Homo sapiens: one gene and its partner. The protein of the gene in region 2 interacts with the protein of the main gene of each other region in a pairwise test. Each region holds a gene or a part of one and is shown on either strand. Other genes may lie near its edges. The genes, in order: MNS1 and AATF.

What was found.
Region 1: the proteins of AATF (region 2) and MNS1 interact in binary tests that used the Homo sapiens proteins (3 or more experiments, as listed by UniProt).

Annotation. Positions count from the first base shown.
Region 1 is NC_000015.10:56,437,490-56,453,270, forward strand, and holds part of MNS1 (meiosis-specific nuclear structural protein 1), read right to left. Parts: intron 9,455-15,781; coding exon 9,352-9,454; intron 8,395-9,351; exon of another isoform or gene 8,182-8,394; intron 7,185-8,181; coding exon 6,955-7,184; intron 6,366-6,954; coding exon 6,149-6,365; intron 6,049-6,148; coding exon 5,941-6,048; intron 1-5,940. UniProt on the Homo sapiens protein: Microtubule inner protein (MIP) part of the dynein-decorated doublet microtubules (DMTs) in cilia axoneme, which is required for motile cilia beating.
Region 2 is NC_000017.11:36,947,980-36,963,760, reverse strand, and holds the start of AATF (protein AATF), read right to left. Parts: upstream 14,808-15,781; 5' UTR 14,636-14,807; coding exon 14,545-14,635; intron 13,548-14,544; coding exon 13,356-13,547; intron 10,876-13,355; coding exon 10,465-10,875; intron 9,992-10,464; coding exon 9,854-9,991; intron 1-9,853. UniProt on the Homo sapiens protein: Part of the small subunit (SSU) processome, first precursor of the small eukaryotic ribosomal subunit.

The DNA of each region.
Region 1 (15,781 bases), on a different chromosome or scaffold from region 2:
CAAACCCACAGCCAATATCATACTGAATGGGCAAAAACTGGAAGCATTCCCTTTGAAAACTGGCACAAGACAGGGATGCCCTCTCTCACCACTCCTATTCAACATAGTGTTGGAAGTTCTGGCCAGGGCAGTCAGGCAGGAGAAAGAAAGAAAGGGTATTCAATTAGGAAAAGAGGAAGTCAAATTGTCCTTGTTTGCAGATGACATGATTGTATATTTAGAAAACCCCATTGTCTCAGCCCCAAATCTCCTTAAGCTGATAAGCAACTTCAGCAAAGTCTCAGGATACAAAATCAATGTACAAAAATCACAAGCATTCTTATACACCAATAACAGACAGACAGAGAGCCAAATCATGAGTGAACTCGATTCACAATTGCTTCAAAGAGAATAAAATACCTAGGAATCCAACTTACAAGGGATGTGAAGGACCTCTTCAAGGAGAACTGCAAACCACTGCTCAACGAAATAAAAGACGACACAAACAAATGGAAGAACATTCCATGCTCATGGATAGGAAGAATCAATATCGTGAAAATGGCCATACTGCCCAAGGTAATTTACAGATTCAATGCCATCCACATCAAGCTACCAATGACTTTCTTCACAGAATTGGAAAAAACTACTTTAAAATTCATATGGAACCAAAAAAGGGGCCACATTGCCAAGACAATCCTAAGCCAAAAGAACAAAGCTGGAGGCATCATGCTACCTGAATTCAAACTATACTACAAGGCTACAGTAACCAAAACAGCATGGTACTGCTACCAAAACAGAGATATAGACCAATGGAACAGAACAGAGCCCTCAGAAATAGTACCACACATCTACAACCATCTGCTCTTTTTTTTTGTTACAAAAAAGACAGGTTTGTTACAAACCTGACAAAAACAAGCAATAGGGAAAGGAGTCCCTGTTTAATAAATGGTGCTGGAAAAACTGGCTAGCCATAGGTAGAAAGCTGAAACTGGATCCCTTCCTTACACCTTATACAAAAATTAATTCAGGATGGATTAAAGACTTACATGTTAGACCTAAAACCATAAAAACCCTAGAAGAAAACCTAGGCAATACCATTCAGGACATAGGCATGGGCAAGGACTTCATGTCTAAAACACCAAAAGCAATGGCAACAAAAGCCAAAATTGACAAATGGGATCTAATTAAACTAAAGAGCTTCCGCACAGCAAAAGAAACTACCATCAGAGTGAACAGCCAACCTACAGAATGGGAGAAAATTTTTGCAATCTACCCATCTGACCAAGGGGTAATATCCAGAATCTAAAAAGAACTCAAATTTACAAGAAAAAATCAAACAACCCCATCAAAAAGTGGGCGAAGGATATGAATAGACACTTCTCAAAAGAAGACATTTATGCAGCCAACAGACAAGAACAGGAAAGGTGATGTCTACTCTCATCACTCTTCTTCAACATAGCACTAGCCAGTGGTGCTGGAAATTTTAGCCAGCATGTAAGGCAAGGAAAGGAAGTAAAAAGTATACAGATCAGAAAGGAAGAAACAGCCTGTAGCTCTGGGCAGAAGACATGCCTGACTATGTAGGGAAAAAAAATCCTACAGCTAACAAGTGAATTCAGCAAGGTTGTGAGATACAAGATAAACACAAAAATATCAATTCACTAGCAACGAGTACACGGACACCAAAATAAAAGCTAACATTCCATTTACGATTGCTCAAAAAATGAAACACTTAGATGTAACAAAACACGTACAGGATTTGTATGCTGAAACTAGAGAATCCTGATGAAAAAATTCAAAGATCTAAATAAAGGGAGAGCCAAATTGTGTTCATGAACTTAATATAGTGAATTTATCAATTCTCCCCAAACTGATATTCAAATTTAATTCAATACCTATCAAAATCCCAGCAAAAAATATTTATAGAGACAAGATTCTTCAAAAATTCATATGGAAAGGCAAAGGAACTAGAATAGCTAAAAAAAAAATTTTAAGACTTGCCATATAGCTGCAGTATTCAAAACTGTGTAGTATTGGTGGAGGGATGGATACATAGACCAACAGAACAAAATAGAGACCACAGGAATAGACCCATACAAACATGCCAACTGTGTTTTAAGAAAGGTGCAAAAGCAATTCAATGTTGGAGAAACAGCCATTTCAACAAATGGTGTGGAACAACTGAACTAAATCCAATGGCAAAAACTGTATTTAAGTCTCATCGTTTGTACCAAAAATTAACTCAAAACAGATCACAGATTGAAATGTAAAATGGAAAAGCATAAAAAAAAAAAACCCAAAAAAACAAAACACACACACACACACAAACCTTTAGGAAAAAAAAAAGGAGAAATTCTTCAATAACTAGGCGAAGAGTTTCTAGAGTTGACACAGAAAGCATGATCCATAAAAAGAAAAACTGATAAACTGAACTTCATAGAAATGGAGAACATTTGCTCTAAGAAAAATCGTGCTCTAAGATCATGTTAAAAGGATGAGAAGATAAAGCTACAGACTAGAAGAAACTATTTGCTAACCACCCACCTGACAAAGGACTAGTATCTAGAATATATGAAGAACTCTCAAAACCCAACAATAAATGAACAAACAACCCAATTAGAGAATCAGCAAAAGACATGAAGAACTATTTCATCAAAGAGGATCTTACACCAAAGAGGACAGCAAATAAGCACATGAAAAGATGTTCAGCATCATTAGTCATCAGGAAAATGCAAAATAAAACTACAAGGTATCACTACATGGATATTTAAAAGTGGCTAAAATAAAAAATTGTTGAGCTTCTGAGGACAGAGGAGAAAAAAATTAAAAAATAAACTGTGTTAACACCAAATGCTGGTGAGAATGCAGACAGACTGCGTAACTCATATATTTCTGATGGGAATGTTAAATGCTACAGCTGTTCTGGAAATCACTTTGGCAGTCTGTTACACAGCTAACATGCAGTTACCACAAAACCCAGCTAATACAATCTTGAGCATTTATTGCAGAGAAATGAAAATTGATGTTTATACAAAAACCTTTACCTGAATGTTTACATCAGATTTACTCATCAGAGCTAAATATTGGAAGCATTCCAAATGCCCTTTAATGGGCAAATGGTCAAATAAAATGGTATATACATGCCAATGGAATGTTACTCAGCAAAAAAAGGGAACAAATGATCAATACAAGCAACTTGGATGAATTTCCAGGAAATTATGCTGAATAAAAAAAAGCCAACTTGAAAAAGTTACATATTGTTTGATATCATTTATATAACATTCCTGAGGCACATACTTTTAAATTTATAATTAAAGGTTTATCCATGTTTTAGCATGATCAGTCTGTCATTCTTTTAATAGCTGAATAACATTTTATTACATGGATATACTATATTTTGTTTATCCATTAGACATTTGGGTTATTTCTACTTTTGGGTTATTTCTACTTTTAGACTATTGTGAATAATGCTGCATAAACATTTGTGTATGGGTTTGGGTAGACACAGGCTCATTAATTTTTAACCATTCTTTTTTCTAATATATGCATTTAAAGATATAAACTTTCCTCTAAGCACTGCATTAACTGCACGTCACATATTTTGGAATGCTGTTTTTTGAATCATTTAGTTTGAAATATTTTTCTAATTTCCAATATTATTTATTCCCCTTTTCTCATTGCTTATTTAGAAATATATTGTTTAATTATAATATATTTAAGGAGTCTGCAGGTATATTTTCATTACTGATTTTTAATTTAATTCCACTGTAGTCAGAAAACATATCTGGTATTATTTAAAACCTTGAAAATTTATTGAGACTTCCTTTATGTCCTAGAATATGATCTATCTCGGTGAAGGTTCCATGTTTGAATGGAATTTGTGTTCTGCTGTTGTTGGGTGGAGTATTCTCTAAATGTCAGGTCAAGTTTATTGATATTGCTTTCAATACGATATCCTGCGGTTCTGACTACCTAGTCTATAGATTAATGAGAACTGTGCATTGAAATACCATTCTGGACATAGGACCTGGCAAAGATTTCATGATGAAGACTCAAAAAGCAATTGTAACAAAAACAAAAATTGACAAGTGGGACCTAGTTAAACTAAAGAGTTTCTTCACAGGAAATGAAGTTATCAACAGAATAAACAGACAACCTACAGAATGGGAGAAAATATTTGCAAACTATGCATCTGACAAAGGTCTAATATCCATAATATCTAAGGAACGTAAACAAATTAACAACCCTATTTAAAAAATAGACTGGCCAGGCACGGTGGCTCACACCTCTAATCCCAGCACTTTGGGAGGCCAAGGCAGGTGGATCATGAGGTCAGGAGATCGAGACCATCCTGGCTAACACGGTGAAACCCCATCTCTACTAAAAATACAAAAGAAAAAAATTAGCCGGGCATGGTGGCGGGTGCCTGTAGTCCCAGCTACTTGGGAGGCTGAGGCAGGAGAATGGCGTGAACCCGGGAGGCATAGCTTGCAGTGAGCCGAGATCACGCCACTGCACTCCAACCTGGGCGACAGAGCGAGACTCCCATCTCAAAAAATAATAATAAAATAAAATAAATAAATAAAAAGAAAAAATAGGCTAAGTACATGAACAGATACCTCTCAAAAAATGATATATATGTAGCCAACAAGCACATGAAAAAGTGCTCAATATCACTAATCATTAGAGAAATGCAAACCAAAACCACAATGAGATACTATCTCACATCAGTCAGAATGGCTATTAAAGTCACAAAAGAATGGATGCTGACAAGGTTGTGGAGAAAAAGGAATGCTTATACACTGTTGGTGGGAATGTAAACTAGTTCAACCACTGTGAAAAGCACTGTGGCGACTCCCCAAAAAATGAAAACAGAATTACCATTTGATTGCTGGGTTTATACCCAATGGGATTGCTGGGTATATACCCAAAGGAATATAAATCATTTTACCATAATGACACATGCATGTGTGTATTTATAGCAGCACTATTCACAATGGCAAAGATATGGAATCCACCTAGATATCCATCAATGGTGGACTGGATAAATAAAATGTGGTACATGTACACCACGGAATACTACACAGCCATAAAAAAGAACAAAATCATATCCTTTGCGTCAACATGGATGGAGCTGGAGGCCATTAGCCTATGCTAATTAATGCAGGGATAGAAAACCAAATACTACATGTCTTCACATACAAGTAACAGCTAAATATTGAGTACACGTGGACACAAAGAAGGAAAACAGACACTGGGGCCTACTTGAGGGTAGACATAGGAGGAGGGTGAGGATCAATAAACTACCTATCGAGTACTATGCTCATTACTTGGGTGACAAAATAATGTTACACCAAATCCCCATGACCCACAAATTTACCCCTGTAACAAACCAGCACATGTACCTCCTGAACCTAAAGTAAAAGTTGGAAAGAGAAAAAGAAAAAAAAAAAAATCTTGAACTCTGATTGTGGATTTGCCTCTTTCTCCTTTCAGTTTTTGTCAGTTTTGCTTCATGTATTGTGAAGCTTTATTATTTAGGTTCACACGCCTTTAGGACTATGACATCTTCTAGATGAATTTACTGTATTATCATGAATTGCTTGTCCTGAAGTTGACTTTGTCTCATATTAACGTAGCAACTCCAACCTACTTTTGACTAGTGTCTGTATGTTACGTATCTTTCACCATCCTTTTGCTTTTAAAGTATGTATCTTCATTTTTAAATTGTGATTACAGACAACATAGTTGCATCATGCTTTTTATGGTAAGTTTATAAATTGATGCCTGAGTCTATCTTTTTAGCCAGCTTGAAAATTTCTGTCTTTTAACTGTAGTATACCATTTACATATAATGTAATTACCAGTATGGTTGGATTTAAATGTACTATCTCTTTTCTGCTTCATCTCAAAATTATATTCTTCTCTACATTAATCATTCTTTCCATTTCTGAAACTTACTTTTAGCTTGCTCTTATATATTTCAGCTTGTTCTTCCTGGTATAATTCTTGTCGCACTTGTTCCAAATCTTCACGTTGCCGCAGCATTTCTTCTAATTTCTGTGTCAACTATTAAATTTTTTAAAAAACATAAATATTTATAGGATCCAAATTCTGTAACTAATATTTCAGAATTTTACTAGTGTTAAAGAAGTGGTTATTTTAATACCGCATTCTGAAGCTGTAGCCTTTTCTCCTCATTTTCTTGAACTTTTGCCATCCGATCTTCTTCTCTTTGCTGCTGCATGTTAGCAAACTCTATGATTTTTCTGTTTTCTTCTTCCATCTCCTCACGTTTCTTTTTTCTCCAGAGAGCCTGCTCTTTCTGAAACTCTTCTATATACCTTCGCATTGCATTCATTTTTTCTAACTTTTGTTGTTTTTCCCTGAAAAGCAATAACAAGTACAGATTTATAGTAAACAATAAAATATAAAAAAGTAATTTCATTTTGTTCATAATAATGTACAGAAAAACACTATAGTTTTTTCATTCGTGCATGCAACAAACATTTTGAATGCTTACTGTGTGCTAAATATAATGTCAGGTATGAATTTTTCTTTGGGTAGAATACTGTGATAGTCTCCTCTAACCTATTAATGAAGTTTTATGCATCTTATTTCATAAAGGCTACAATCTGTTAACATTAGCTTTGCAGCACTCTATACTTAAGCTGTCTACCAAAAAAATTTATCAGAATACCTGTCCTCTGACATATGATATGGGCATATATAAGAAAAACAAAGGTTTAGGTCATTCAATCACTTCAGCATTTATTAATCATCAGATAATTCATTTATTAATTATGCTAACGGAGATGAGAAGGAGTTGGTCCCAATTTATGTTTTCATAGCTAGTATTTATTGAGCACTTACTATGTATTAGGCACTGTTCTAGGTGCTTCAGTTCCTCACAACAAACCTGTGATATATCTAAAGTAAACATTTAGACATGTAAGAAAGTTAGGATAAACTTACAACTGATCTTCTTCATAGATCTTCCTAACAATTTCATCAATCATGAGTTTCTCTTTTAGCAGCTGCTCATAAGCTTCCTGCTTTTTTTTTTCTTGTTCTTCAAGTTGTTTCTCTAAGTCAAGATAGTACTGTGCTTTCGCTTTGTTTCGTTTGTCTTCTGCAGCATTCTCTTCCTTTATTATTCTCTTGTGTTCTTCCATCATGGTTTTGGCTATTTCAGCATCACGTTTCTGTTATTAAAACAAAATTGATCTTTCCGTTTTCAAATTTGAACATAGTACGATAGTATATTTTACACCAATGTTATTGAATATTATAAAGTCTTTTACATAAAATAAATTTTTTCATCTGTCTAGGTTAAAAAGCAAAAGTAAGTTATTATTACCTGAAGGGTGTGAACAATAAGTCAGACCCTAAAGCAGCTTTCCTATCCCTTCAAGTAGCTCTCTCAGGACAATACCTGATAAGGATTATTAATAACTCCACATTCAAAAAACAATGAATACAATTGTAAGTAGTTTCTTAATAACTATTTAGCTGCTAAAGCAGTCATTATCTTATTATTCTATTTATAAACTGAGCTAGGCAATTTTCATCGTTTTTAGCTTCATTGTTTATCAGCTGCTATTTAAAGATGGTACTGCCTCTTTCTTACAGGTCTGCTATTAAATGGCTTTGAGCAGCTCTTAAGTTTCTCCTAGCCTAAACTTTCTTTCCTGCCATTGGCCCTTGACGTTTCCCCTTTCTGATTTATTAAAGGCCCTTTATCTGAAAAGAATCACAGATGCTACTGTGCCTATTTTCTACAGCTTTTAATTCACTCAAGACCATTCCCATTGTCAAGAGACAATCTTTCTTCTTGGATGGGTTAAACCCCTTATTTCTTTTGAGCATTTTTCAAATCATTTAATAAAATAAGTTTTAAATGAAATATACTGAGGCAATTTTTTAAACTACGCTTTACTTTTATGATCACATCCCGAATGATGGAATGGTCAGCAGCATCAAACATAAAGAGTAAACAGATTAAAATATGAATACTGAATGTCATTCCTGACGTCACTGAAGCCTTTAACATATACTCTGATAATATGACTTGACCAAAAATGTTTCTGATTATCTTCTTTGTACATGCTATACTAAATTCTTTATTAAAAAATGAGATGACAATAACATTTATGTGTAGATTACCACACACTTACCGAAAACAATGTTCTCATTTTACAGATAAGAAAACTAAGGCTCAGAGAAAAAGCCAAAACTAGTACTTGCATGACACCTAGTCAAGTCCTAGTAGTATTCGACTTTCATTTTGTGGATCAATTTTTATTTGGAAAATAGCAGCAATTCTCGTAGGAGTCAGATTAAAACGTCTACAACTACCTTGAATAACTTCAACTATCAGGATAATTAAAACTGCAAACCACTGGACAAACAGGACATTGTTTGTGCTACTTTCTTTTTCAAAGGACAGCGCTATATGGCTTAGCAAATGAAGTCTCTCCACCTTTTCTTATCACCTGCCACACCTAAAGGTATTCCTGTTAACAGCATGCTGTGTACCCGCTAGACATTTTCTATACTAACACAATTGTACACACGCAACACACACATATATGTGTCATTTATGGTATCTATTCTTAATTGATACCCATATTGCACTGCACTGGTTAAGTATTTTGATATCACCCCATAAGAGTGTGTGTGTGTGTACATATGTTTATGTGGACATACACAATAGATATGTATGTGTATATAAACATTCATATATAATTGGCCCTTCTGTTTGATAATGAGAGCTCAAGGGATGATGTGCACCCTTTTAATTAACTGTTAATTCAGTAAACCCTATTATATATTCATACAGCAAAGCACTCCTAGTGAGTATGCCTGAGATTCCTTTGCCCAAGAGTAACTCTTATCTTCAACTTGGTACCATATCAGGAGTTAGAAAAGGGGATAAAAGCAGAGAGAAACATGAGAAAAAGAGATGGCTTTTATAAAACTGGAAAGTTTCCTACATAAAATTATCAAGTAGTTTACTCTTAAAAACATTTAAATAATTAAAAATTTCATAACATTCTAAAATACACTTATCATGGTAACAATTTGTACTGTACTACTTTGTCAGTGAATAATCAGTTAGAGACTATAAAGAATGCTGGGAGTTACTGAATATAGCTGGTCATTCTAAGCAGCAATGTGTTTCTGAAAGGCTCTAATATTAAAAATGAAATCACGCAGGATTTTCTACATCTTAAGGATCTGAAAATTTACAAATATTTAAGAAATCTAGCAGTGTAAATTCTTTATACAATATGACAATTTTTTAAGAAACAAGTCTAATTTTTATTTTCTAAATGAAGCTAAAAACATAATGACCAGAAACATGATTACCATTTGTTCATATTTAATGGCATCCTTTTCAGCAATCTGAGCTGCCCTTTCTTTATTCATGTAAGCTGCTTTTAATTTCTTCTCCAATTCTCTAAGCTCAATGCTGTTTAAAAAAACAAAAACAAATTTAAATGTTAGGACCATAAGAGAATGAAAACCTCACAGAAAACTGAGTAACTGTATTTTTAATTTACTCAAAGAGGGAATACAGCGGGTATTATTTTAGATCCATAGGAGAAATAATTCATTATATTTAATGGATGCCTTTAGGGCATTAGGGCTTACATTTTCTGGTTGAAAAGTACTGCTCTGTTCTATTACATTCATCTGTTTGCTTATCCTGTGTCAATACCACACTATCTCAACTGCTGTAAATTATAATACGTCTACATATCATGGATAAGTCTCCAATTTTGGTCATCTTCTTAGAGACTGTCTTAGCCATTCTTGATACTTTCATTTCCATATACATTTTAGAATCAGCTTGTCAGACTTCACAATAAACAAAACTGGCTGTGATAGTACTGAATTCATAAATCAATTTGGAAAGTACTAATATCTTTACATTACTGAGTCTTCAATAAACATAGTATATCCTTCTAATTATTTGGTTTTTTAAAAGTCTATCGATGTTTATATCTGTGTTTTATTTTGGTAGTTTTATACTTTTCATTAGGTATTTTTCATATCCTTCTGTAGATTATTTTTCAAATCTCACTTTCTAATTGTTGATAATTTACAGAAATACAATTAATGTTTATATACTAAATTTATACCCAACAATATCACTGAATATATTTTTTAGTTTTCAGTTTTACTGATCTACAATATTCAATAAACTGAACATGTTTAAAGGATACAGTTTGATAAGTTTTTACATATGTATGCACCTGTGAAACCATCACCACAATCAAGATCATGAACACGTCCCAATCACTTCCTTATAAACCTGTGGTACCTCTCTTCTACCCCTTTATGTTCGCACTTATCCTGAGGCAAGCTAATTTGCTGTCACCTTAGGCAGTATAAATTTTCTAGAATTCATATAAATGGAATCATAGTGCAGGTACCATTTTTCTCTGGCTTCTTTCACTCAATATTTTCAAATACATCCATTTATTGCATATAGTAATTGCTTACTCCTTTTTATTGCAGGATATTATTTTAAGATTATAGATATCCACTCGCATTGCTTATCTATTCACATGCTGATAGACATTTGAGTTGTTTCAGGTATGTGGATATTGCAAATAAAGCTGCTATGGAAATTTGAGTACCAGTTATTTGTGGTCACAGGCTTTCATTTCTCTTGGATAAATACCTAAGGTGGAATGATCAGGTCATACAGTAGATGCACGTTCAGCGTTTTAAGAAGCTGCCAAACTGTCTACTAAAGTGGTTTTAAGTTTTTATTTCAACTTTTAGATACTGGGGGTACATGTGCAGATTTGTTACATGGGAATATTGTGTGATACTGAGGTTTGGAGTACAGCTCCTGTCACCCAGGCAGTGAGCACAGAATCAAATGGGTTGTTTTTTAACCCACTCCTCCTCCACCCTCTCATAGTTCACAGTGTCTGTTGTTCCCATATATGTCTATGTGTACTCAATGTTTAGCTCCCACCTATAAGTGAGAATATGCAGTATTTGGTTTTCTGTTACTGCGTTAATTTGCTTAGGATAACGGCCTCCAGCTCCATCCATGTTTCTGCAAAGGACATAATTTCATTGTTTTTATGTCTGTAGAGTATTCCGTGGTATATATGTACCACATTTTCTTTACCCAATTTCCCACTGGTGGGCACCTGGATTAATTCCATGTCTTTGCTATTATGAATAGCACAGCAATAAACATATAAATGCATATGCTTTTTTTGGTAGAATGATTTGCTAATTCTTATTTTTAGATTCTTTTTTTTTTTTTTTTTTTGGAGACGGAGTCTCGCTCTGTCATTCAGGCTGGAGTGCAGTGGTGTGATCTCAGCTCACTGCAAGCTCCGCCACCCAGGTTCACGCGATTCTCCTGTCTCAGCCTCCCAGGTAGCTGGGACTACAGGTGTGTGCCACCATGCCCGGTTAATTTTTTGTATTTTGAGTACAGATGGAGTTACACCATGTTGGCTAGGCTGGTTTCAAACTCCTGACCTCAGGTGATCCACCTGCCTTGGCCTTGCAAAGTGCTGGGATTAGAGGCATGAGCCACCACACCCGGCTATTTGTAGATGCTTTTGGATGTTCTACACATACAATCATATCATCTGTGAATAATTAAATTTTTATTCCTTTAATGCCAATCCTAGCACCTGTCTTTGCTTTTTCTTGCCCTATTGCACTGATTAGTATGTATAATACAAAGATGACTAAAAGCTGTCAGAGCAGGCATCCCTGTCTTCTTCTCAGTGTCAGAGGGGAAGTGTTTAACATTTTGCTATTAAGGATAATGTTGCTGTAAATTCCCTTTTATCCCTAGCTTGCTACACTCTTTTTATTAAATCATAGAGTGATGATTCATATCAATGGGCTTTTTCTAATCATATAATTGTTAATAGGATGAATTACATTTACTGATTTTTAAAATGTTAAACCACCTTTGCATTCCTGGAATAAATTAAATTTGGTCAGGATGATTTATCTTTCTTATACAGCACTGGATTTCGTATTGACTAATATTTCAGATTACAGGAGCTAAATTCATGAGAGAGATTAGTCTACAGGTTTCTCATATCGTATTCAGGTAATGATCTGATTAAAACAAATTGGGAAGGGCTTCCTCTTTTTCTGTTTTACAGAACTACATAAGATTGGTGTTACTTTGTCCTGAATGTTTGGTAAAATTCACCTAGCCCTGTAGGTTTATTTGTGGACAAGGTTAAATTACAGATGCAATATCTTTAAAAGTTATAGGAACATTTAGCTATTTCTTCTTGTGCCAATCAGTTTGGTAAAATGTGCTAAGAATTTATCTATTTCATTTACATTTTCAAATTTATTTTCATAAAATTGTTTGCAATATCCTGCTATGGTCCATTAAGTGTTTGTATGCTCTACAGTGATATCACATTATCCATTCCAAAAACTGGTTATTTGTGCATTCTCTTTTACTCTGTCATCCCTACCAAGGGGTCGTCAATTTTATTCACCTTTTTATGGCACAGTTCTTGGCTTTATTTGTTCTACTTTATGTTTATATTCTAACTTACTCATTTCTGCTCTTATCTTTATTATTGCCTTCCTCCTACCTTCTTTTTGTAATCATTCCAGAAGAGAATTTGCAGTTTGTTTTCTAGTAATTCCAGATGGAGTTTTCCTTTCTAATACAGTTATTTCAGATTAAGACCTACCCTTGAGGAACAGCCTTAACTATATGCCACAAGTTGGTTTCTTTTTTTTCAGTCCTATAACATTTTTTATCATGTGAAAATATATGTAACAAAAATTTGCCATCCTAACCATTTTTAAATGTACAACTCAGTGGTGTTAATTACATTCACAGTGTTCTGCAACCATCAACACTATTTCCAAAACTTTTTCATTCCCCCCAAAGAGAAATGCTGCACCTCTTAAACGATAACTCCCCATTCTTCCCTCTCCCTAACCCCTGGAATTCCTAATCTGCATTTTGTCTATTTGCCTATTCTAGATAGTTCACAAAAGTGGAATTATACAAGGAATTGTCCTTTTGTGTCTCGCTTACTTAACATAATGTTTTCAAGGTTCACTAATATTTTAGCATGTATCAGTGCTTCATTTTTTTTTTATAACTGAAGGATATTGTATAATGTATATATACTACACTTCATTTATCCACCCATCTGATGGACATTCAGGTTGTTTCAACATTTTGGTTATTGGAAATAATGCTGCACCAAAAGTTTGTATACAAGTATCCATTTAAGTCTCACTATTGAATTTTTTGTATATTTATGCCTAGGAGTGGAATTGCTGGCTCATATGGTAATCCTTTGTTTAACTTTTTCCCATAGCACCTGCATCATTTTACATTTCTACCAGCAATTTCTGAGGGTTCCAATTTTCCCACTTTCTTGGCAATACCTATTATTTTCCACTACTTTTATTAAAATTGCCTATTAGATGTGAAACAGTTTCTTCTTATGGTTTTGATTTGCATTTCCCTAATGACAAATAATGTTGAGTATATTTTCATGTACTTATCATTCACTCAACATCTTCTTTAGAGAAACGTCTAAGTTCTTTGTTCATTTTTGAACTGGGTTTTTAAAATTATTGAATTGTAAGAGTTCTTTATATATTTCAGATATTAAATCCTTATCAGAGATACAATTTGTTCTTCTGGCCTAAATGAGTTCTGAGTGAGGTAAAACAGATAAGTGCCTTGTGTTAGTTTTTCACGTAGTCCCAAGGTAGGTTAGAACAGATATACCCAACAATTTGTGAATAAGATCTGCTCTGCTCCTCCTGAACCAGGGACCAGGGTCCTGCATTGGGAACAAGGGCTACCTGCCTCTGAGCTAGGAGGGAATGAGGAAAGGGCAAGTGAAGATACCACAGAACTTTACTACCATTTTTAGGCTTTTTCTTGTTTCAGCATTTGCTTGATTGCAATAAACCTTTGAATGCTACCCAAATTTCTTATAAAATTGGTTCTGAGAGTTTCTGCTTGTTTTCTGATGTTTGTAGTCGGGGGATGGGCTGGGAGGAGAGACAGGAGCTGGGAGCTGCCTACTCTGCTATTTTGCTAATATCAGTCCAATCCTGCAACTTTTAGTATGTGGTATTTTCATTATTATTCAGTTAAAAATACTTTCTAATTTCAATTTTGATTATAGACAGTCTCTGATTAATGATGGTTTGACTTTACAATGGTGAGAAAACCATATGCATTCACAGTAGGTTCCTCAATTCATGATGGGATGCATCCCAATAAACCTGTCGTAAATTGAAAATGTAGTTTATTGGGACATGAACCCATCGTACATCAAGGAGCATCTGTACTTTTTGACCAAAGGGTAATGTGAAGCACATTTTTAAATACCTAAGCATATAAAGATTGCCTAGATTTTTTTTTATTACTTACGTCTAGTTTAATTCCACTATGGACAGAGAAAATACTATGTATAAATTGATTCCTCTGAAAATCTGTTGATATTTTTATTCTGATACAACATTTCATCAATTTTGGCAAATGGTTCAAATATGTTTACTATAACTACTAATATAATTGGGTTTCCATTTACAAGCTTATATCTTCTTTCTACTTGTCTTCCCTGTCCTATGTTCTCTCTTCTCTCCTGTTTGCTTCTGTGTTGGGGGTTCCCAAGACCACCATCAGGTTAGATGATTCACTAGGAGGATACAGGACTCAGCATATAGTTATACTCACGGCTATGACTTACTATAAAGAAACGAAACACAGCAAAATTGGCAAAGGAAAAAGGCACATGGGTGAAATTCAGAGAAAACTAGGTGCAAAAGGCCTCTACCTGTGGAAACACACAGGACACGCTTAATTCCCCGAGCAATGAGTTGTGACGTGTGAAATGCCTGGCAGACAACATTAGAGCTCATCAGAACTCAGTGCTCTGGGTTCTTATTGGGGGTGGTAACTTAGGCACCCTCTACTTAGAACGTACCAATATTCCAGACTCCCAGAAAGAAAATGGGTATTCAGTATAATCCATATTGTTTTGTTTTCTTTTTTTCTTTTTTTTTTTTTTGAGACAGAGTCTCTCTCTGTCGCCCAGGCTGGAGTGCAGTGGCGCGATCTTGGCTCACTGCAAGCTCCGCCTCCCAGGTTCAAGCGATTATCCTGCCTCAGCCTCCCAAGTAGCTGGGACTACAGGCGTGTGCCACCAGGCCCGGCTAATTTTTTGTATTTTTAGTAGAGACGCGGTTTCACCGTGTTAGCCAGGATGGTCTCGATCTCCTGACCCTGCGATCCACTCACCTCGGCCTCCCAAAGTGCTGGGATTACAGGCATGAGCCACCGCACCCGGCCTAATCCATATTGTTTTCACATTTTAGCCACAGTGAATCATCCTCAGCAGTTAAGGTGGTAAGAACCTTCTCAAAAGCCTAGTTTCCAGAAACCAGCCAAAGACCAAACTTGCAAGGAGGACTTTCTAAGATAGCCTCAAGCCTGCTATGTTAACTCTTTTTTACATGAGTTTTTTGGAATAATCAATTCCTATTATCGTATTTTATTCTCTATTAGTCAGTTATATTTTCTTTTCCAAATTTTTATTACAGATATTACAGCATGTTTCTTTGTTTCCAGGTGAATAAATTTATTCATTATTATTTGACAATGCAAGATTCTTGACTTTAACTTCATTTACTTCCTATCTCATTTTGTCATATTTTTAACTCTTTACATATTTTAATTCCCAAAAGACATAATAAATATTTTATACATTCAAATATCAACTAAATTTACTATACATGTACCTCT
Region 2 (15,781 bases):
CAGTCTCACCTTTCATATCAGAGAATAAATAAATCAAGACAGAGATATAAAGAAATTATCTAAAGTTACAGAAGTAAAACAAATAAAATGAGACTGAATGTCAGTCAAAGGAGTACTGTCTTCCTGAAGGCTTCTGTATATTTATCTTACTCCTGTGTGATTTTAAAAAAACAATTTAAGAACAGGTTTTAAGACATAAACAATAGAGTATCATCTTATGCAGCAGTTGGGTTCTAAAGTCTAAGCATAAAGCAAAAAATCAAGTTTTGACAAAACCACTTTGAAAATCCCTTATATTGTACATAATGTGTGGCATTGTGCTATCTTTCAATAAGTTCAACACAGCCAGTCTTTCCCCTCTAACATTAGCCCATACAGCACTTTGTCAATTAAACACAGATGATTCAATTTAGGGACCGTCCTGTACAAAGACTGCATGTTGTAACTTTAAGCACTAGATTGATATTCTGTTGATCGATGCTCACTAAAGAGGTACCCAAGAACAAAAAATAACCAAGGCAATAAAAGAATCCACCTGCCATCTCATGCATACCCTACGCTCACTGAATAAAGTGGCAGGCAGAATTATTGGCACTATATAAACAGTTTCTCTCTCCTTGGTTTTTGTTTTGTTTTGTTTTGTTTGAGACAGAGTTTTGCTCTTGTCAGGCTGGAGTGCAATGGTGCGATCTTGGCTCACTGCAATCTCCACCTCCCGGGTTCAAGCGATTCTCCTGCCTCAGCCTCCCGAGTAGCTGGGATTACAAGCATCCGCCACCACTCCCGGCTCATTTTTTGTATTTTTAATAGAGAGGGGATTTCACCATGTTGAACTGGTCTCGAACACCTGACCTCAGGTGATTCGCCTGCCTCGGCCTCCCAAAGTACTGGGATTACAGGCATGAGCCACAGTGCCCAGCCTCTCCCTCTTTTTCTTTTGGCCAGGCACATATAGTTACGTTTGAGTTAATTAAATGTACATATAAAGAGGTTCCATTGTGCAATGATATGTACAACTTCACCATGAATATAGTGACACAGTGATCCTACTATGGAGCTACTAGCTACTCCAAGTCAGGGCTACTTTCTTATCTAACTCATTACTATTAAAAATTATTTTTCTGAGCTACTCTGGGCCACTCTGCCTATGGGATAGCCCTGCTCTGTCTATGGAGCAGTCAAAAAAAAAAAAAAATTGTTTCTGATGCTGAAGACAACTCTCACTCCTAAGAAACCCAACCCCAAAACAGTGAAATGCATTTTCTAGCTAGATTGGTATCAGTAGTTTTTAAGCTGCCCTTAGCTCACACAGGTCTGTGACCCATTTAGGGCTTATACTCTTAGGGTAGGTAGAATCAGTGCATAAGAATCTGACACTCCCCTCCTCATTCCACCACTTGGTGACTTTGGAAAAGTTCTTGCTCTGTGATCCAGCTTTACTCTCTACATTATATAAATGCCTAATTAACTAAGTTGGACAAAGTAGTAGCTCAAAAGGGACAAAAAGTCTTCCTACACAGAACTCACTCTCTAATAAATAGATAAAACACTGCATATGTTATTTCAGTGCTAACAGGTATTATGTAAATACCAAACAGAAACTTATCAAGAAATGATTGCCTTCATTTCCCACCTACAGTTTAGCAAAAAGAAGATCAATAATACCTAGTGGAGGCAGGAGTGTAGGAAAACAACTGTTACAGATGAGAATTTAAATTGTTACAATTCTTCCAGGGGCTAGTTAGGCAATATATTCCAAAAGCCTTTTTAAAAAAACAATGTACAAGGCCCAGCACCGTGGCTCACGCCTGTAATCCCAGCACTTTGGGAGGCTGAGACAGGCAGATTACCTGAGGTCAGGAGTTCAAAACCAGCCTGGCCAACACAGTGAAACCCAGTCTCTACCAAAAACACAAAAATTAGCCAGGCACGGTGGTGGATGCCTGTAATCCCAGCTACTCAGGAGGCTGAGGCAGGAGAATTGCTTAAACCCGGCGGGGCAGAGGTTGCAGTGAGCCGAGATCCTGCCATTGCACTCCAGCCTGGGCGACAAGAGTGAAAACTCTGTCTCCAAAAAAAAAAAAAATCAATGTACAAGTCCTTTGTCCCAGCAACTACATTTCCAGGGAATATAGATCTGGGCAATATGATACAGTATCCACTAGCTACACGTGGCTACTAAGCACTCAAAATGTGTCTAGTCCCAATTGAGATGAACTGTGATTATAGAATATACTCTGGATTTCAAAGACTTAACATGAAAAAAGGAATGTAAAATATCTCATTAAGATTTTTATATTGATCACATATTGAAATTATAATATCTTTGATATATTGGGTTCAATATGTCTAAAATTAATTTTAACTGTTTCTTTTTTAAAATGTGGTTATTAAAAAATTTTAAATTACATGTGGCTTGCATTATATTTCTACTGGACAGTGCTATTTTTAGACAAACTGCACAAATATGTATGTACAAGGATGTTTATTAAAGCATGTTTTATACAAGTGAATAGCTAGAATAAACCTAAGCACCCATCAATACAGATTGGTTAACTAAATTGCAGTAAATCTATAAAAAGGAATACTTCAACTCCTAAAAATGCTGATGTACATCTAAATATACTGACATGAAATATTAAGTAGGAAAAATAAGCTTGAAAATAGTACATACTTATATGATTCCATTTTCTGTTTTAAAAAGTGTGTGGTGTGTGTGTGTGTGCACGCGAAAAGGTCTGGAAGGATATTCATCAAAATGACAACTATGGTTATCTCTGGGCAGTAGGATTACAGCTAATCCTTATTTTCTTCTTTATGCTTCTATGTATTTTCCGATCTTTGAAATAAGCATGACATACTTTTATAATTAGAACACTGAAGCTATTTTAAAAAATGATAGCCATCAGCTGAAGCAAAAAGATCAATCTTACTCACATCATCTTGGCTAGATGAAGTCTGCAGCAATAAGGGTCCTTAAGCCTACACAATGTTACAATTAGAGGGGGTTGCAAGTGCCTTTATCCCAAGCAATACTTAAACCCATCCCAAGTAATTAAAAATATTTCAAGGTTCTACAGAACATTGTGAGAACTTTGCCAAGAACCCATAAAGTGTTAACTGAGAGAACTCCGAAATAATCATTTATGGATTTGTCACCTAAGGCAACTAAGTAATTTAAAAGGGGGGGATTTCAGTGATAAAATTGGTTGCCTGTGGGACAGGGTACTGGGCGGCAGGGGTACAGGATTATCACTGTATATATAGTCTTTAGTATTTTTGAATTTTGAACTATGTGAATGTACTGCCTACTTAAAAATAAGTAAAACTTTAAAAACAAAACATTATCAAGACTCCATGATTTCCCACAGCTTACGCAAAATTTAAAACATTATTATTTAAGGTATCTATTATTGCTGAGGACAAATTACCATTAAAAATTTTAGTCTAGCCGGGTGCAGTGGCTCATGCCTGTAATCCCAGCACTTTGGGAGGCCGAGGCGGGTGGATCTTGAGGTCAGGAGTTCAAGACCGGCCTGGCCAATATGGTGAAACCTCGTCTCTACTACAAATACAAAAATTAGCTGGGCGTGGTGCTGCATGCCTGTACTCCCTGCTACTCCGGAGGCTGAGGCAGGAGAATCACTTAAACCCGGGAGGCAGAGGTTGCAGTGAGCCAAGGTCGCACCACTGCACTCCAGCCTCGGCGACAGAGCAAGACTCCATCTCGGGGGGGGAAAAAAATTTTAGTCTAGTCAAGTCAAAATAATTGGGGCTTTTGGGCAAGGACCACAAAGATATGAGAGTGTAAGTATGAAATGGGAAGATAACAGGGTGCAAACAAAATATAATTTATTAATAGTGAAATCTGTTTTCATACTCTTAGGAAAGTAAAAAATCTTAATACTTTCTCTGTATTTATATTACATTATGCTGTGTTCTTGGATGTTTTGCTTACGGGAAATATCAAAATGACAACCATTGTTTCTATTAAAGGTCTTTAATGATATTGCATTTTAGACCTGTAATGAAACATGGTGCTCACTGCAGTTTGTAATGCATCTCATTAAATACATTAATAACATGCATTGCACTAAAAGGTCAACTTATTATGACTGAAGTTTAGCTTTCCTTTAATCACTTCATTTAAAGCTATAGAGCAAACTCTGAAAAAGACAGTAGAGTACCCGTTACAGAAATACTCTCTAGGACCTTTTGCCTTAAAGAAAAGAAAAAAAACAAAAAAGACATTTACTTACAATTTTCCCACCCATCCAAATCAGTCATGTTTTTTGTTTGTTGGTTTGTTTGTTTTCTTGAGACAGACTCTCGCTCTGTCACCCAGGCTGGAGTGCAATGGCATGATCTCTGCTCACTGTAACCTCTGCCTCCTGGGTTCAAGCAATTCTCCCACCTCAGCCTCCTGAGTAGATGGGATTACAGGAACCCACCATCATGCCTGGCTAATTTTTGTACTTTTGTAGAGACGGTGTTTCATTATGTTGGCCAGGCTGGTCTTGAACTCCGGACCTCAGGTGATCTGCCCACCTTGGCCTCCCAAAGTGCTGGGATTACAGGCATGAGCCACCACACCCAGTCTGTATGTTTGTTTTTTTTGAGACGGAGTTTTGCTCGTTGCCCAGGCTGGAGTGCAGTGGCGCAATCTCGCCTCACTGCGACCTCCACCTCCCGAGTTTAAGAGATTTTCCTGTTTGGCCTCCTGAATAGCTGGAATTACAGGTGCCCGCCACCACACCCAGCTAATTTTTTGTATTTTCAGTAGAGACGGGGTTTCATAATGTTGGTCAGGTTGGCCTCGAACTCCTGACCTCAGGTGATCCACCTGTCTTGGCCTCCCAAAGTGCTAGGATTACAGGCATGAGCCACCACACCAGGCCAGTTATGTTTATTAAGAAATTACTGTTAATGTTTTTACATGAGATTATGGTATAATTTTTTAAAATCCTTATCTTTTGAACATACATGCTGAAAATTTTACTGATGAGAGAATGTGTATTATTTGCTTCAAAATAATCCAGAAGGTGAGCAGAGTTGGTACAACTACAGATGAAATAAGATTGACCATGAATTGATTATTGCTTAAGCTGGTGAAGGCATGTGGGGGTTCACTGTGCTATTTCTCTACTTTTATATAAGTTTGATATATCCCATAATGAAAAGTTTTAAATAACTCATGGTGAGATTTCCTTAAGTAACTTCCCTTCTTCCTTACATATCATTGCCACCAACATAAAAGATGTATTTCCTAATACAGTAGAAATTCTAAAAGAGAGAAGGCCAGGCACAGTGGCTCATACCTGTAAGCCCAGCACTTTGAGAGGCCAAGGTGGGTGGATCACAAGATCAGGAGTTTAGGACCAGCCTGGCCAACATGGTGAAACCCCATCTCTACTAAAAAAAATTACAAAAATTAGCCGGGTGTGGTGGCATGCGCCTGTAGTCCCAGCTACCCAGGAGGCAGAGACAGGAGAATCGCTTGAACCTGGGAGGCAGAAGTTGCAGTGAGTTGAGATCGCACCACTGCACTCCAGCCTGGGTGACAGAGAGAGACTCCATCTCAAAAAAAAAAGAAAAAAAAGAAAGAGAGAAAAAGCAAACCCTTTTAGAGAAATGGTTTTGTGCACAGAAAATCCCTTAATTTTGTTAAGATTACTCCATGACTTACCACTTATGCAGCCACTAAAATATCAGACGATGTCTTTGAAATCACTTCCACAGTTCAAGTTTAAATTACCAACATGTAACACCAAGGTGACTGGGGACTAAGTTTACGTGTTTGGGGTGGTGTGTGGAGAGGAAGGAGATATTCATTTAGTTTCTGAAAAGTAGAGTTTAGGGTGCTGAAGCTACAAAGGCATGGTACTCAGGAGTTTACTGGAGCTAGAATACAGCTGGAAGTCTGTTATTTTAGAGGCAATAGTTAGGGTTATCAGAGTAAGTGACAGTGCCAAGGAGAGACTATATTGAGAAAACGCAACCTGAGGACAGGATTCTAAACGGAATGAAATTTACATTGAGAGGATACAAAAGGAACCAGAGAAGAGATCAGAAAGGTAGGAGAACCCAAACAGCACAGGTAGTGTCACCAAGCCAAAGAAAAGTATTTCAAGGAAAAGTTAAACGCTTCAAGGAGGTAGTAGCTGGGTATAGCAATAAGGAAATCTGTAGCCATCTTTCCATAGCGTCGTAAGAGGCCAACACTGCATTGTAAGTATTAGTAAACTATAACACTTTCCAGAACAATTAGTTAATTTAAATTATATAAAGAATCCAAATACTAATAAAAAAGTAAAAAACACTGAAGACTAGTGAGGCTCAGTTACACTGATAACTATTGAGTGATTGCTCACATGGTCGAACACTGCCAAATGCCTCTTTGAGCAGAAAAAGATAATATTAGTACCTAACATTCATGGTGAGATGTGTGCCAGACACTGTGCTAATGCTTTCTATTGATTATGTCCTTTAATCCTCACAACCATATTATCCCCATTTTACTGTGAAGTTAAGTAACTTGCCCAAGGTCACATGGCTAATCCATTGCTGAGATGAAATCTAAACCAAGCCGGTCTGACTTTAACTACTCTGTAAGACCAAGCAAATTGAAAAGAGATTTAATTAAAGACAGTAAGTTCCAGTGGTTGTTCTGGGGTTGGTACAAATTCAGCCTATGTTCCACACCAGCTATACAGCACAGTAATAAATTGGTCATCCAGAGTAATGTGCTCAAGAATTTTCTCTCTCTCTCTCTTTTTTTTTTCGGGGGGGACAGTTTCGCTCTTGTCGCTCAGGCTAGAGTGCACTAGCACGATCTCAGCTCACTACAACCTTTGCTCCCGGGTTCAAGTGATTCTCCTGCCTCAACCTCCCAAGTAGCTGGGACTACAAGTGTGTACCACCATACCTGGCTAATATTTTTATTTTTATTAAAGATGGGATTTCACCACGTTGGCTAGGCTGGTCTCAAACTCTTGACCTAAAGTGATCCGCCTGCCTCAGCCTCCCAAAGTGCTGGGATTATAAGCGGGAGCCACCGTGCCCGGCCAAGAACTTTTTTTTTTTTTTTGAGACGGAGTTTCACTCTTGTTGCCCAGGCTGGAGTGCAATGGCACAATCTTGGCTCGCTGCAGCCTCCGCCTCACAGGTTCAAGCAATTCTCCTGCCTCAGCCTCCCGAGTAGCTGAGATTACAGGCACCTGCCACCACACTTGGCTAATTTTTGTATTTTCAGTAGAGACGGGGTTTCACCACATTGGCCAGGCTGGGCTCAAACTTCTGACCTCAGGTGATCAGCCCACCTCGGCCTCCCAAAGTGCTGGCATTACAGGCGTGAGCCACTGCACCCGGCCAAGAATTTTTTTCTTAAAGTCTGTTTATCAAGACAGGGGAGTATACAACATATTATGTCATATTGCCACAAGAAAAATTAGCTACTCTTCAAATGCACAGCTCATTACTTGAAAACTCCCTACCCTCCCACCTTAGAATATGTGATACCAAACTTCCTTTCTTCTCCCTCCTCCACCACAACCCACCCTGTCAGATTAATAGATGCTGTCAGATTAATTGAGGTTCATCAATGAGGTAAAGGCAATTGGTTAAGTACAAAAAAGAGTAAAAAGATCAGAACAAAATAAAAGTTAAATAACACTGCAGTGATTAAAGACACTAAATGAGTTGAGTATGGTGGCTCACACCTGTAATCCCAGCATTTTGGGGAGGCTGACACGGAAGGATCATTTGAAACCAGGAGTTTTGAGACCAGCCTGGTCAACATAGTGAGACCCTATTTCCACAAAAAAAGAAAAAATTAGTCGGGCATGGTGGCTCATGCCTGTAGTACCAGCTACTCAGGAGGCTGAGGCGGGAAGATCACTTGAACCCAAGAGTTCGAAGCTGCAACGAGCTATGATCACGCTACTGCACTCCAGCCTGGGCAACAGAGCAAGACCCTGTCTCATAACAAAAAGAAATTAAATCGTATCCAAGAATATGTGTCCATTATACTGGACACTGACTAACCCCTAAAATATCTATATTTAAATATGAATTTTTTAAAATGAAAAAGGCTCAAGCAAAAAGAATAATGAGTAACAAAATGAAAACAGGCCTTATCGTGAAACATTTAAAACATTTAATCTAGAGCAGTCTAGGTCTCATTCCAAAGGCATACCAGGAATTAGGGTACTAGGACACTAAAAATAGCAGAGAAGTGCTCCAAAAATCTCAAAAAACTTGAAAACCATCAATCTGTCATCTATTTGAGAGAGAAAGGAGGCAAAGACAGGGGCGGGGATATAAATGGCCCACCTCACCCACACAGGCCACGTAAGGCTCCTGGGAAGGACTGCCCAGACTTCCCACAGGGGAAGAAGCAGACTTTAAGTGTGGCGGGACACAAAACCCAAAAACTGGACTCTAGGAAGCCATTCCTAATTACATCAGGTATTCACCTACAAGAAACGTTCACTGAACTCCCTACCTGGGAAATCCTACACATTGATCTTGAATGTCTTAAGGCGGTTCTACCTACAGGCAGATGCCAAATTAGATATCCTCCTCAGGTCCCTTCCAACTCTAACTCCATGATACTAAAAAAATAAGTTTTAAAGAGCAAATGAAAACATGAAGTCTCAGCATGCAAGTAAGACATATTGATCTCAGCTGAGCGCAGAGGCTCATGCCTGTAATCCCAACACTTTGGGAGGCCAAGGCCTCCCAAATATATATATAGAGAGATAGATACATAATCTATACATATATATCTATATCTATGGATATAGATATCTCTTTCATGAGGACTCTGAATATCTAGATATAGATATATACAGATCCCAAACACAGCACACTCACCCTAAATCTCCCTCTGCCCCAGTCCTTCAGTGCCACTGGGCACACAGGCAAGCAGCACACAGGAGGCAGTGTGGTGCAGAGGGAAGATTCCTACATCATAAGGTAGAAAAGTTGGAGCCTCATCTCCGCCATACACAAATAAGCTCTGCAACTTTGGGCAAGTCATTCTGGGTCTTAATTCTCTCATGTGTAAAATGAAGACATTGGGAACCAAATAGTCTCTCAATTCCTTTTCCTCTTCTAGAATTCTTTATAGCTCAGTAATTCTCCTCTAAAATGTGTTTCTCCCTCGGCATATCATCTTTCCTCACTCTATGTCACTCAAAGAAAGATATAAATAAGATCATCTTAGCACATTGTTCTAAAAACCTCTCAAACATAGGAAGCATCTTTTAAACACATGATACAACCAAGTTTAATGAGCTGAATTAGACATTCTTTTTCTCCCTTTCTACATCAGTGGGTTTTCAACCAGTGTCCCCTGAGCTTTAAAGAATTAACTCAGGGCCAGGCTCAGTAGGTCACATCTGTAATCCTAGCACTTTGGGAAGCAAAGGTGGGAGGATTGCTTGAGGCCAGGAGTTTGAGACCAGCCTGGACAACACAGTGAGACCCTGTCTCTACAAAATATCCCTCTCTACAGGCAGGGTGGTGCACGCTTGTGGTCCCTGCTACTCGGAAGGCTAAGGTGGGAGGATCACTGAGGTGGGAGGATTGCTTGAGCCCAGGAGGACGAGGCTGCAGTAACCTGTGATCGCGCCACTGTACTTGAGACTCAGCAACAGAGCGAGACTCTGTCTCAAAAAAAAAAAAAAAAAAAAGCAACTTGGAAAGCCAAGGGGGATGGGGAGGGGAGAGCAAGGGCAGATGAGAAGAAAGCACAATAAACATGGCTCAAGCTCCCAGTCCACTTCAATCAAAGCTGTCTTCATTTGACAAAGTGGTTCTAAGTATTCCAACAGGACATAAGTATTCTTACTATTTTTCAGGGCACTGGAAAATTCTGGGCCACCTTTGTCCTTGAACAATGGGAAAACATCTGGTTGAGGAAGCTGGTTGGTGGTCAACAGAGCTTTTTGTAGTTTGATCCTTCCTTCCAAGAGCTGGTCCCACAGTGCTGAAAAGAAGAAAAGAGAATCCCATTCCTCAATAATAAAATATTCTGGGGGTGAGGTGGCAGGGGTGGGGAAGAACAGGAAACCACACCAGTCTCTAAGCACCACAGCTTTAGCAGTTTAATGCCATGGAAACAAATATTCTCTATTAGAGAAAATAAATTCAGTATCCATGAAGCAAGTATTTGCTACAGCAGAGTGGGAATGCTAAAACCCAAGGAGAGGAGAAAACACTCTTCTCTTCAATCTTCCCCAGTTGCAGGAAGTACTAGAGCAGAACCAGCTAAGCAGATCAGTGCAGAAATGGCTGGCTAAGCATACAGGAATAGGGCTTTAGGCTTCTGGGTAAGTGGGGCATGTCACAAACTAATTGAAAGGACACAGGAGATAGAGAATAGCCAAAAACAAACAAATGAAAAGTAGACCAAATGCAGATACTTTGAAAAACAGGCAATCAGCAAAACCATGTACAAACCTATCTGGTTCTTCACGGCTCTTCCTTTCTCCACTTCCTCAGAAACTTTGACACTAGAGAAGGTCATCACCACACCATCATCCTCACTGTTTCTATCTCCAGCCCTGTCTTCCTCACTCTCGCCTTGGGAGTCTTCCGCGTCATCCCCTTCTTCCATGCCACTCTCTTCGTCTTCCTCCTCCTCACTGCTCCCAAGGTCATCCATTCCCTTGGTAAATTTCTCAAAGTCACTGATACTCTGGACACTGAAGCCCGGTGTTTTTGCAGAGTGGCTTCTGCTCTTCTTGCTCTCCCTGTGATCACCACACTCCTGTTCCTCAGCAGCACCCAGGTCGTCCTCATCATATTCCTCCAGACCCAGTCCCTCTGAATCTTCATCTCCAGACCCTTCCTCATCAGATATTTCCTCATCTACAAAGAAGAGAGGGAAGAAAGAGAAAAATGGGTATTACCTGGAGAAAATACCAAGCCATAGACTTCATTTCAACTTAAGCACTGTGGCATCAGGGGGAAAATCTCTTACTGCACTCAATTCAACAATATATTTATTACACATCTACAATCTCCAAAATGCTAAGGGAGAAGCAAAGATGAATAGAACACGGGTCCTACCCTAACAAAAGGAGCTAGTGGGAAAGACAGACTCACAACATTACAACTCAAGGAAGCATCAGAAGTGCTTTGACAAAATTTCAATAACCCAGAAGAGTGAGAAATTTTAACTGTGGGGCAAGTGAATTTAAGCTAATCTCTAAGGAAGAGCTAGCATTTGCTCTGGCCCTTGAAGAACAGTAAGATTTCAACTGGTGTTAGAGAATTACCAGTTTTCCCAAACCTGATCTGAAAAAATGTACAATCTATCACATCCGTCTGCCCTATTTACTAAATACTTATTAAGCACTCATTATGAGCCAGGGGCTAAGGAAAGGCAAATAGAATTTAATACTTGCTGGGAGGAGTTCATGGTCTGGTGGGAGTGGTAGATATGCATGCCAATAATTATATTACAAGGTCATTAGTACACAGTGTATGGAGATGGAACCACCTAACTCTCCTGGAAAGGTGGGGGATGGTATCATGTGGAGAAGGAGACATTATAATTTTACTTATGAAGCATAAGGCAACAGCTCATAGATAATGAAGGGAAAACGCACTGGAGTGCAGGATGCACAAGGAAGTGATGGGAGATGAGACTAATCAGGAAAGGTCTCGTCTTTCATGAGGACTCTGAACTTGATCCTATAGTAGACAGAGTGCTAGTTAAGGCTCTTTGTTTGACTTATGCTTAGAGTATCATCTGATATGTAGAGGTTTTTACAGTTTATCCAATCTGTTCCATGGTAGAACATAAAAGCCCCATGTGTTTCAAGTATGATTCTAAGATAGAGGGACCAGTTTCCAAAAACTTTCTTCAATAAAATAAAGATTTTAGGAAAGCGTGACAGGTCTTCAGCGCTTCTTTAAAAAGGTATATATAAACTTAAGACACAAAGCTGCCAAAAATATAAATACAAAAACTAAGTGCCAAAACAGTAAACAGAAATTATTATTTAAATTCTTTGAATGTACGCCATTTCTCAGATTAAGAAACATTCATACAGAGTTTACTAGAGTGTACATCTTGGAGTCAGACAGCCTACATTTGAATCATGTTTCTTCCACTTACTAACTATATGACCTTGAGCAAACTTATGTAACCAATTTGCCCCTCGATTTCCTTATCTGTAAAATGGGGCTAAGTAGTAATAACTTCCTGCGCAATTGGGAGGATTAAATTAGGTGACACATGTAGTGATAATGGTGATAATTTTTTATAAAAATCTGTCTAATTCCAGGTAATTTTATAATTTTTTTTTTGAGGACTTACTGTGTCCCAGGCTCTTAGAACTTAAATTATAGAGCTAAACTCAGTGCCTGACGCATGGTAAGAACTCAATAAATATTATCATATTTGTCTCATGATTGGTCCCTTTATCAGTCTCTAGGCAAAGAATATGAAATGAGCTTATCAGGAGCTCCCAGAACTACATCAAGGACTAAATCATAGATATCATAACCTAAATGATAGTTCCTTTTATATTATCTGTGGATTCTCAACATGACACCCCTGACCTTTCTAAAGGAAAACAAATGACATTCTCCCAATAATCACCATATCTAGCCCCTTCTTCCACTCTGAGAAATTTACAATTCTTTAAAACTATAAGCGCACAGACTCCTAACTCTTTTGCAGGGAAGAGAAGGATTATGTGATTTTTTAGAATGGCAAAAAATGAGTTTCACAAATAACTAATATCACACAGTGCTTCAATGCAAGTCCTGGAAAACCAAAGGTCAGGGGTCACAATTCAAGGATAACATGTTCATCAGACACAGTGGTTTTTCAGCTCATAACCCTCTCCAGTAGCCAAAATGCACTGCCTTCTCTGTCACTCCACTGTAGGGTGAGCCATTAGTCCGAACATAAGGAGTATAGCAACTTAATCACTCTGGGCTTTAGATTCCTTATGAAGTGAAATGAAGTAACCTCTAAGACCCTTTCTAATACCAAATCAATGGTCTCTCCTAAGATAACAGATAGGGGTGCCTGACCAACATGGACAAACCCCGTCTCTACTAAAAATACAAAATTAGCCGGGCGTGGTGGTGCATGCCTGTAATCCCAGCTACTCGGGAGGCTGAGGCAGGAGCCTCGCTTGAACTCCAGAGGTGGAGGTTGCGGTGAGCCGAGATGGCGCCATCACACTCCAGCCTGGGCAACAAGAGCCAAACTCTGTCTCAAAAAAAAGATCCGCAGACTACTCTTGCAAAGATCATGGGGGATGACCGGAGGATTTTAACCCTGAAAAAATTAGGGAAGAGAAGAGTTCCATTCAAAAATGTCTACTCACCAGACGATCCTGGCAGAGTCTGCTCCCAATGGTCTTCATTCCATGCTTTTCTAGAGGTGGTTTTGCCGCAATACCTTTTGTCCGTGTCCAAGAGGGAGGCTGATGCCAGTTTTCTAATGCTACCCACTACTAGGAAATCACCTTCCCCATCTTCCCCTTCATCAAACCTGTCAATCACCCTGGCAGCAGTGGCTGTCGGGGGAGAGGGAAAAGTAAACAGAATCTCCAGGTTAGCAGAAACTTTAACGGGAACCCTGGTCGACCCATTTATCTCATAGTTGAACGTCCTTTACGAAATCCCCACCAACTTCCAGGAATAGGAAATTCACTCTCTCCCAAAGTAGAACACTGTCTTACTGCTGTTTCTAAACAGAAAGTTGACTCCTGGCATCTACTAGTGGGATCTATTTCTATGACTTGGATCCTATCAAACTAGTTGAATTCCTCTTCAATGTGTGACAGTCGCTCCAATATCTTAAATCAGTCATCACGTTCTCCCCTCACTCTGTCCCATTCTTTGGGGAGTTTTCTTTGCTTATTCTGGCTAAACAGTCCCGAGTTTCTTCAACTGATCTTCCTAAGATACGGTTCAGCACTCGCATTTATCCCTCCTTATTATCCCTTTCTCACACTTCCGACTCAAGTCTAAAGCGGGATTACTCCCAGCTAGACTCTGAACATCAGCTTACAGAACAGGAGTCTCAGTCGTCAGCCACTGAACAAGTGTCTTGAGACTTCAAGAGACTTAAACAGCACCAGAAAATCCTTCCATCAGTCTCCAACTTAGTTTTGAAGGGCAACCTGAATTAAAAACATGCGACTTTCTTCTCCTCCTTTCTAACGCAATACCAGAAAGGGCATCCTCAAAGCTAACTTCCAACTTGCTAGCAGACTCTCTGGCTCCCTCCAACAGGCCTGGAGCAAGTAAACCTGAAGACCAGCTCCTCTCGGCCTGAGCCCTCGATCTGTTCCGCCCATCCAGCCGAGCACCAAGTTTCGAGTGCGTGTGAAAAGAAGCCGAAGCCCTCCTCCCGAGGCCGGGACCACCCTCGCGGGAGGCGACGTTCCTCTGCGCCAAGCGAAGGAGCGCAGGCCCGGCGGCCTCGCGCACGCCCCTCCCACGCCGCCCCCTTGCCCCACAGGGCCTGGCCCACCGCTCCGCACGTGGCCTGCCCCAGTCCGGCCTCACCTTCCTCGGGGTCCGCTTCAGGGTCCGCCTCGCTTGGTCGCGGGTTCAACAACTGTTCCAGTTGCAGCGCCAGGGGCTGCGGCCCCGCCATCGTCACCAGCTCCCGGTCCACTCCGCTTCGCGCACGTAAATGTGCGGCCCAACCCCCGGCCCCGAAGCTCCTTCCCTGCCGGATCCTCTCGCCTTGATCCGATTCCCCGACTCCGCCAGAGACCGCGCGGAGGCCACCCCACAGCTCTGGACCGGCCACTTCCGGGAGGCGCGCGGGAGGGGGCGGGGCCTGCGCGTCACTGCGGGCGTTGCTAGCATGAAGGCGGAAGCGCGCAGAAGGTTGAAGGGATTGGAGCCGTATGGGCGCGTGTGCGCGTGCGCGTGCGAGTGCGCGGGAAGGGGCGGTGCGGAAGCGCGCCAAGGCACGTGACCGCTTCTGTCGCTGAGATGCGATTGCGATGCGCGCGGCCAGTGTCCCCTTGTACAAAATATGCCTCGAGATTTGTGCGAGATTCGCTTAGGAATAAAGCATAGCGTAGCCGTGGCCCACGGTGGCTGATTTGGGAAGGAGGAGGGAGTAGGGCTTAAGCTGCTCGAATCGCGGGTGCGCACTCGGGCACGCAGAGACTGGGACCCAAAGCAGGTTTGTCATTTCGCAATTTATAGTAGTCTGAGGCCGGGCACACGCCTCCCGCCCTTCAGCGGCCAGGATTTGGGAATCCTATGTCAGGGATATGCACGTGTAAGTGTGTGGCGGACTGCTGGCGTCTTTCTTAATGGGAATACTTAGGAATCGCTGTGGCTAAAGATAGTTTCAGTAGCGTCTCTAAGTACCCTTGCCTGAGCAAGGGAAAGGGGGTGGGGTGTGGATTACTCCACTGCATACCCCTCGGTATTGATTATCTTTGCTGTTCAGAGATGAGGGCATGCTCAGGCAGCTTAAGCAGGTGCACAAATGCAGAAAAATACAGGTCTACCGTTAGAGGGACAGACTCAAAATATAAAGACTTAATAGTATAAATGTAATTGCACCCCGCACACGGAAAGACACAATCGCTTTACATCCTCTTTCCTTCATCAAGCATTCCCTGACTGCCCACTATGTGGCAGGCACTGCTAGATAAGATACAAGATAAGTAAGTTGGATTCTCCCCCCCACGGTAATCAGCCTAGGAGGGTAGACAAACATGTAAACAGAAACTGCAATAAGGGATGATAAGTGTGACTACAAAGTGGTCTATTCTTA